Homo sapiens: one gene and its partner. The gene in region 2 interacts genetically with the main gene of each other region. Each region holds a gene or a part of one and is shown on either strand. Other genes may lie near its edges.

Region 1 (3,813 bases), on a different chromosome or scaffold from region 2:
CAGTTTTCCAGGCAGAGACAGGCGAGGAACATCACGCCCAACATTGGGCCCCAGGTGGAGCTTCCGGGATAGAACGTCAAGGGGATTGTCAGCCGGCTGAGTGGCCACCTTCACCATGACGTTGCTATTGAAGATGTAGGCTGAGAAAAATACCTGCCGAGTTGGAGAGATGCCTTTAACAGAGGGAGTTGGAAGCAACCTGCTTTCAGCATCAGCCCTCCTTGCTCTTAAGAGCAGAGTCTCAGAATGCTGTGACTGCAATGCTTTCGTTGACTGTATGATTTGAGAAAATCTTTGCTCTTCCTGTGTACTTGCCAATTTCTGCACTCTCCACACCCAGAGATTACTCCCTGACGGGGTGGCCCCCACTGCAGCGAATCTTGTCAGCCTGTTACCTCTTCTATCCTAGGAGTCACACACACACACTACCTACTGTACGACTTTTCAGCAAACAAAAGGATCGGACTGCACACCCATGATACAGTTAAGGACTGGAGAGAGAGTGATCAGCAGCTGGGCAAGCCCGACTTTGGATACTTCTAGTTAATAGTTTTCAGGCATGAATGCTTCACTTCAACACAAAGAAGGGGAGGAGCTCCAAGGACATAAACGCTTACCCAAAAGACATCATAGATGAGAAGCCCTGAGAGAAGCAGGCAGGAGACCTTGAGGCTCGGCAGGCGGACAAAGGCGATCATGGCGACACAGAGGCCCATGGCCAGTGCTGGGGAGGAGACAGGGTACAGCAGACAGCAGTCAGTGTGGACTCCAGGCTCATCCTCTTTCCACAAGCTATGGCCCTTCACAGAGTTTGCAATTCCCTCAAAAATCAGGCAGCCCTAAGCTCCAGCTTCAGAAACTTACATGCAACTGGTGCAAAACACCCGCTTCTTCAGCCTGTTTGGACTTGTGGAATTTGGGGTGATTGCTTTCCTCCTCCTAGACATAGTGCTCGGCTGTTGGAGACCCAGGAAACCAGTCCAAGACCTCCAAGCTCTCTTTTCCTGCCTTCCCTCCAATGTTGTGGATGTGTTGTCCTTGCTCCCTGCTTTAAAGTGAACTCACACCCTAGATAGCACCCCCTTTCATTCACTGGAGGCATCATCCCAGCAATTCATTAACTGCGTTATAGAAAACTAGAGAATACAGTAAAGCAAAATAAAAAAATTACATTCCCACTTTTCAGAGATTACCACTGTTCAATATCTTCCTAGAATTTTGTTTTTCTTTTTGGAGATGGAGTCTCGCTGTATCACCCAGGCTGGAGTGCAGTGGCACAATCTCGACTCACTGCAACCTCTGTCTCCTGAGTTCAAATGATTCTCCTGCCTCAACCTCCCGAGTAGCTGGGATTACAGGCACCCACCACTACGCCCAGCTAATTTTTGTGTTTTTAGTAGAGATGGGGTTTCACCATGTTGGCCAGGCTGGTCTCGAATTCTTGACCTCAGGTGATCCACCTGCCTTGGCCTCCCAAAGTGTTGGGATTACAGGCATGAGCCACTGCACCCAGCCAATAATTTTTTACATACTTTTTTTTTTTAATCTAATGAGATCACACAATCTGTTCCCCCCCTCCACCAAAGCCAACAACCCCCAGTTTCCATTTGGGTGAATTTTCACCTCATTTAATCAAATTTCTCTATAGACCCCAAAACATCTTTTGCAGATGGTTTGTCTGTGCTGGTTTCCAATCTGACATAGTCCACCCCACCACTTTTATTTTTTTTGAGACAGGGTCTTGCCCTGTTGCCCAGGCTGGAGTGCAGTCATGCGATCTTGGCTCACTTCAGCCTCTGCCTCCTGGGCTCAAGCAATACTCAGCCTCCTGAGTAGCTGGGACCACCGGCATGTGCCACCACACCTGGATAATTTTTGTATTTTTTGTAGAGATGAGGTCTTGCTATGTGGCCCAGGCTGATCTCAAGCAATCCTCTCACCCTGTTCTCCCAAAGTGCTGGGATTACAGGTGTGAGCCACCATGCCCAGCCTAAAGTCCTTTTTTTAATGACTTGCTGAAACTGGAGTCATCTGGATTTTTCTGTGCTTCTCTATTGCAGTGGTTGGCTTTTCCTCTATCCCATATATTTCCCATAAATTAGATGTTATCATTTGAGTGCTCGATCACTTCCAGCAGGGCTTTCATCCCTGCTACTCCACTGACACTGCTCCTGGGGGCTTGCCAAGGATCCCCTCATTGCTAGACACAGTAATCGACCTGTCCTCCTCTTACCCGACCTTTAGGCAGCAACCCGCCCAGCTAATGGCTCCCTCCTTTTCCCTTGATTCTCAGGACAATGTGCTCTCCTGTTCCTCCCCACTCACTGGCCTTTTCAGGCTTCTCTGTAGCTCCTCCTCAATTCCCAGAACTCCACGGGCCTTTCCTCAGATCTTTTCCTCTCTCAGTGATCTCGTCCAATCTCAAGGCTCTTGACACTATCTATCTTATATGTCATCAACTCACACATTTTAATTTCCAGCCTGAATCTCTTCTTGGAGCTCCAGACTCATACATCCTGTGGCCTAAGAGACATATATACTTGGCTGTCTAGTTGGCCTCTCAAATCTAACATGTCCAAACTCAGCTCTTAACAGTGCAGTCTTCTGTCTCCAAGCATTTACTCTTTGCTTCCAATTGTGCAGACGGAAATCTGTGATGTCGTTTTTGACCCGTCTCTCTTTTACACCCTGCCTGGCTTAAGCCGCCATCCTCTCCTGGCGTGCATTGCTGCAATGACCTCCTCCCTGGCCTCTCTGCCTCCAACTTAACCCCTAACAAGTCTCTTCTTCACAGTGCAGACAGAAGCAGCTTCTTAAACCCTAAGGCAGGTTTTATGGGGCCCCTAGCTCAAAACTCTTAAACAACTTCCCATAGAGTAAAAGCCACAGTCTTCATACTGGCTGACAAGGTCCTGCTGTGACGGTGACCCTTCAGGTCACCTCCTGCTACTTCCTTTGCCAGCCACAGCAGCCTCCTCACTCTACCCCCCATGCCGCCGCTTCGGCCACGCCGCCGCTTCAGTGCTCTGCATTTACTGTGCCCTCTGCCTGAACGATCTCCTCCCAGAACCCAACTGGCTCCGCTCCTCGTCTTTCACAGTTCTTCACGCAAGTACTAGCTTCTCAATGACAGGTGGACTTTCCTGCAATTACATTTAAGATCATACTTCCTGCCCTTGTCTTATTTTTCATTTCTCAACTTCTGATATACATAATTTCTTCTTTTTTTTAAACATTCTCACTGCCCTCAACTCCAGTGAAGGTTCCCCGAGAGCATGGCTCAGTGCTCACCCTTGTAGTCTAGGCCAGGGCCTGGCAGGTGCAGGGCCTCTCCCCTCCTTCAGCTCTCTTCCTCCACTGTTCTGCAAACACAGGTTTGATGAGGACACAGAGCTGTTGAGAAACTCTTCATGGGGTCTTGTGGTGGGATGAATGTCCAACTCCCTGGCCAGGGAGGGCACTCTCCACTGTACAGCCCAAGCCCTCAACACGCATTCCTGTGGCTCTGTTTTCTAGACAGTTCAACACAATTTCCCGCTCTCCACACATACTGTGTTCTTTTCACGCTCTACCCAGAAGGTCCTGCCCCCGGCTCCTTCATATGGAAAATCCATCCTCATTCTGGAAGAGCCAGGTCAGGAGTCCTTTCTCAGAGTCTTTCCTGATCCAACCAGTCAGTTGCTGCTGCTCTTTTTTTGTTTTTTTGAGACAGAGTTTTGCTCGTTGCCCAGGCTGCAGTACAATGGTGCAATCTCAGCTTACTGCAGCTTCCACCTCCTGGGTTCAAGTGATTCTCCTGTCTCAGCCTCCCGA
Region 2 (3,813 bases):
GAAAAGGAGTAGCCAGCAACAATGGAAGAAAAAAAATAAAAGTTGAAGAAAAAGAGAAATACAAGCAGTGCTGCCATTAATGTTCCACAGACACAGGATCAGCTGACTCTGTACAGATCACCTGCATCCAGAATTTCTCTAATATGACTCTTGGTTCAGTCTAGAGAGCAATCTCATCAGTATCTTCTTGTCCCTAAAAGCTTCTTTATCTAGAAGTAAAAGTACCCAGACATTATTGGTGGAAAAGATCCATCAGTAACAGCCATCAATCTACTCCAGGATCCAAATATGCCCATAAATAGCCACTGAACTGACAAACTAAAGACTCATGAGAGAAGAACTGGAGTGTCTACAAAAAGTGTGAGATGGACAACAGGTCTCAGAACTTGTTGCAAAGTGGCCCCACTACCCTGTGCACAAAGTCACAGATGAAGGTCATATCCCCTGAAAATGCTGACCCCTTCCATCTCCCACCACTGTGAAGCAAATGTAAAAGGAGTGACACTTATGAAATTAAAAGAGCCACCACCTTCTACATTTGCTCTGAACTAATACCTATCCAATGTCCTCTGCTCTCAGCAAGTGCTGCTAATACTGTCAAAAGAAATGACAGTAAACTAAGATGTAAAGAAGACTCACACTAGAAGGCATGCAATCATCCAGGGATAAAAAAGAAACTACAGCCCTACTCTATGGGCCAAGAAGAGGCAAGAAAAGAGCTACATTAGGGATCACACATGCTGAGGAAGCTGCTACAGTTCTGGCAGAGAACTGAAGCCTTGCTGTGAAAAAGGGGAGTGGAGTAAGAATAAGTATTCAAAGGAAAAAAAAAAGGGAAAATGAAAGAAGAAATAAAGTAAATAAATGAAGGCCTATAAAAGGAGACTCGAAGACTGAGAAGCAGTGGGAGCTTCAGGACCAAGAGGAGCAGGCTCCAGCCTCGGTGCGTGCCAGCAGCACAAAAGGGAAGGAGAAACACCTGATCAGGAGAAAGCTGAAAAACAGAAAAAGAAGAGAGACTTTCATGGCCAAACTTGCAGAACAGACAGAAGAGAAAGAAAACCAAAGTATGAAAAGAACCAAAATGCTGCTAAAGATGAAGATAAATCTGGCAATTAAGTTAAAGAGAAAGAAATTGAGGCCAGAGAGAAACACTTTTAAGAAATGTACCCAGTGAAAAATATAAATGGCACTGACCAATCTCAGGAAATTGACACCTACAGTCAAATTAGCTCCAAAAATAAGTCTCCAAGCAGGACTGTTCTGAAGCAGCTGCTGCACAAATGTCCAAAAGGGTCAGTGACTTTTTTTTCCCCCCTACAACAGCTAACTTCCAGATTTTTGGAGGAGGACGGGGGAACAAGGGTTTCACTATATTGCCCATGCTGGTCTTGAACTCCTGGGCTCACACAATTCTTCTGCCTCAGCCTTCTGAGTAGCTGGGATTACAGGCGCATGCCACCTTGCCTGGCAGTAATGTATTTGTAAAGAGGTGATGAGAAGACTGACAGAAAATTCAGGGCGAATGCCTGTGAATATAGTGAGGATTCCAGTCCTTGAGTCAAAGAAAGGTTAGCTCAGCCTCTGCAATCATGAACATGAATAAAGACCTCACGGGCCTCTCAAACTCTGAATGAAAGACCCAGAGCATAGTGAACATACAGCTACCTCAGCAGACAGCTGAGCCCGCCAATGAAATTCAGGTATCTTAATGCCACAGGCTTCTCCCAAGTCCCAACTAGCTTTTAAGCATAGAAGAAAAGCTTCATTTATCTTCTTGCTGAGATTATATCACAATTACACTCAGAACTGGGAAGGAACATGAGCTGGATCTTATTCTCAGGACTCTCCCCCCAGAGCTTTATACCTTAACCCAGTTTCATTCCCACAAAGAAAATGGCTTTGAAAAGAACAGGGAAACTTCCAACCAAGATCTTGATATTTTTCAAGGAGATTTTCTTCTGTTACATTGTTTCTTCACCTCATGGCCAATGTAATTTCTTTGTTTTCCTTTTAATGTCCCCATGAGCTAGTCTCTTATTTTTGTGTTTTCCTACCAGTGTAAGTGTATAGAAGGTATATAAACTGATATTAAGCAAACAGGTTTCCAAGATAATCACCACTTAAGAAAAAATGCAGGCCGGGCGCAGTGGCTCACACCTGTAATCCCAGCACTTTGGGAGGCTGAGGCGAGATCATCTGAGGTTGGGAGTTCGAGACCAGCCTGACCAACATGGAGAAACCCCGTCTCTACTAAAAATACAAAAATTAGCCGGCATGGTGCTGCATGCCTGTAATCCCAGCTACTCGGGAGGCTGAGGCAGGAGAATCGCTTGAACCCAGGAGGCGGAGGTTGCAGTGAGCCGAGATCATGCCACTGCACTCCAGCCTGGGCAACGAGAGTGAAACTCCACTTCACACACACACACACACACACACACACACACACACACAAAAAATGCTTTCAGTATATATTTAAAGCCTTAAAATAATATTTATATTCATTTACCAATTAAGAAATAAACTAATAATGGGAGTGCCCAAAATTTGATTTCTAAATACTATACTATTCTCCAATTAAAACAAACAACAACAACAACAAACAGGGATCCTTGGAGAAGTGACTGATGCCAGGCTGGGGAGGGAAAAATATAAGGGTTTTGGGTGCCAGAAAACAAAAACTAAGGAAGGACTAAAAAAAAAAAAAAAAATCGGGGCAAACAGACACAGCTCCCAATAGTCAAAGAGCTACAATAATTTCAGCAATAAAATAACAACAGTACTGCATTCTAGTGCAAAGAATAAAATAAGTATCCAAAGCACACAATAATATAACTGATTGAATAAATAAATAACAGGGGAGAAGGGATAACTCTTCCTCACAAAGATTCCAATTAATACTTTGAATGAATGAGAATTGTATGTAAGTATCCAATGAATGCCTAGAAGGAATGAAGGAAAGAGAAAGTCAAATCCCAACACCACAGTAGTCATTGCTGCAGGCAAGATCAATCAATGAATGCTACTTAGACCAAAGTTCAAAGAGAAACAGCATCTCATATGCAAAGTAGTAAACTATCTTCCCCCAAATAATTACTGATGACTAGGAGAAAGACAGTAAGGTTCCAGTGGTAAAACTTGACAGAAAACTTGAGATGCAACCAAATTGAGGGACTTTATAAAAATACAAATATAAGGCCGGCACGGTGGCTCATGCCTGTAATCCTCGCACTCTGGGAGGCTGAGGTGGGCAGATCACCTGAGGTCGGGAGTTTGAGACTAGCCTGACCAACATGGTGAAACCCTGCCTCTACTAAAAATACAAAATTAGCCAGGCCTGGTGGCACATGCCTGTAATCCCAGCTACTCGAGAGGCTGAGGCAGGAGAATCACTTGAACCTGGGAGGCGGAGGTTGCGGTGAGCCGAGATCACGCCATTGCACTCCAGCCAGTGCAACAAGAGCAAAATTCCGTCTCAAACAAACAAAAAACAGAACAAACAAAAAAACAAATATAAAACACTTCTTCAGAAGTGTTTTGAAAGACTAAGTAACTGTCACAGATTGAAGCAGACCAAGTAGACATGACAACTAAACGTAATGAGGAATTCTAGATTGGAGCCTACAACAGAAAAAGAATGCTTAAATAAACTTTTAAAAGTCTGCAGTTTAATTAATAGTACTGTACCAACGTAAATTTTTTAATTTTGATGAACGTACTATGGTAATCCAAGATAGCAACTTGAGACAAACTAGGTAAAAGGTGTAAGAGAACTCTGAAAGTCTACAATTATTCCAAATAAAAAGTTTGCTG

Evidence for each region.
Region 1: changes in ZNF445 (region 2) and SPPL3 together harm fitness less than expected from each alone (positive genetic interaction), as found in Homo sapiens cells (one large-scale study listed by BioGRID).

What each region holds. Positions count from the first base shown.
Region 1 is NC_000012.12:120,768,336-120,772,148, forward strand, and holds part of SPPL3 (signal peptide peptidase-like 3), read right to left. Parts: intron 725-3,813; coding exon 618-724; intron 154-617; coding exon 1-153.
Region 2 is NC_000003.12:44,471,038-44,474,850, forward strand, and holds part of ZNF445 (zinc finger protein 445), read right to left. Parts: intron 1-3,813. UniProt on the Homo sapiens protein: Transcription regulator required to maintain maternal and paternal gene imprinting, a process by which gene expression is restricted in a parent of origin-specific manner by epigenetic modification of genomic DNA and chromatin, including DNA methylation.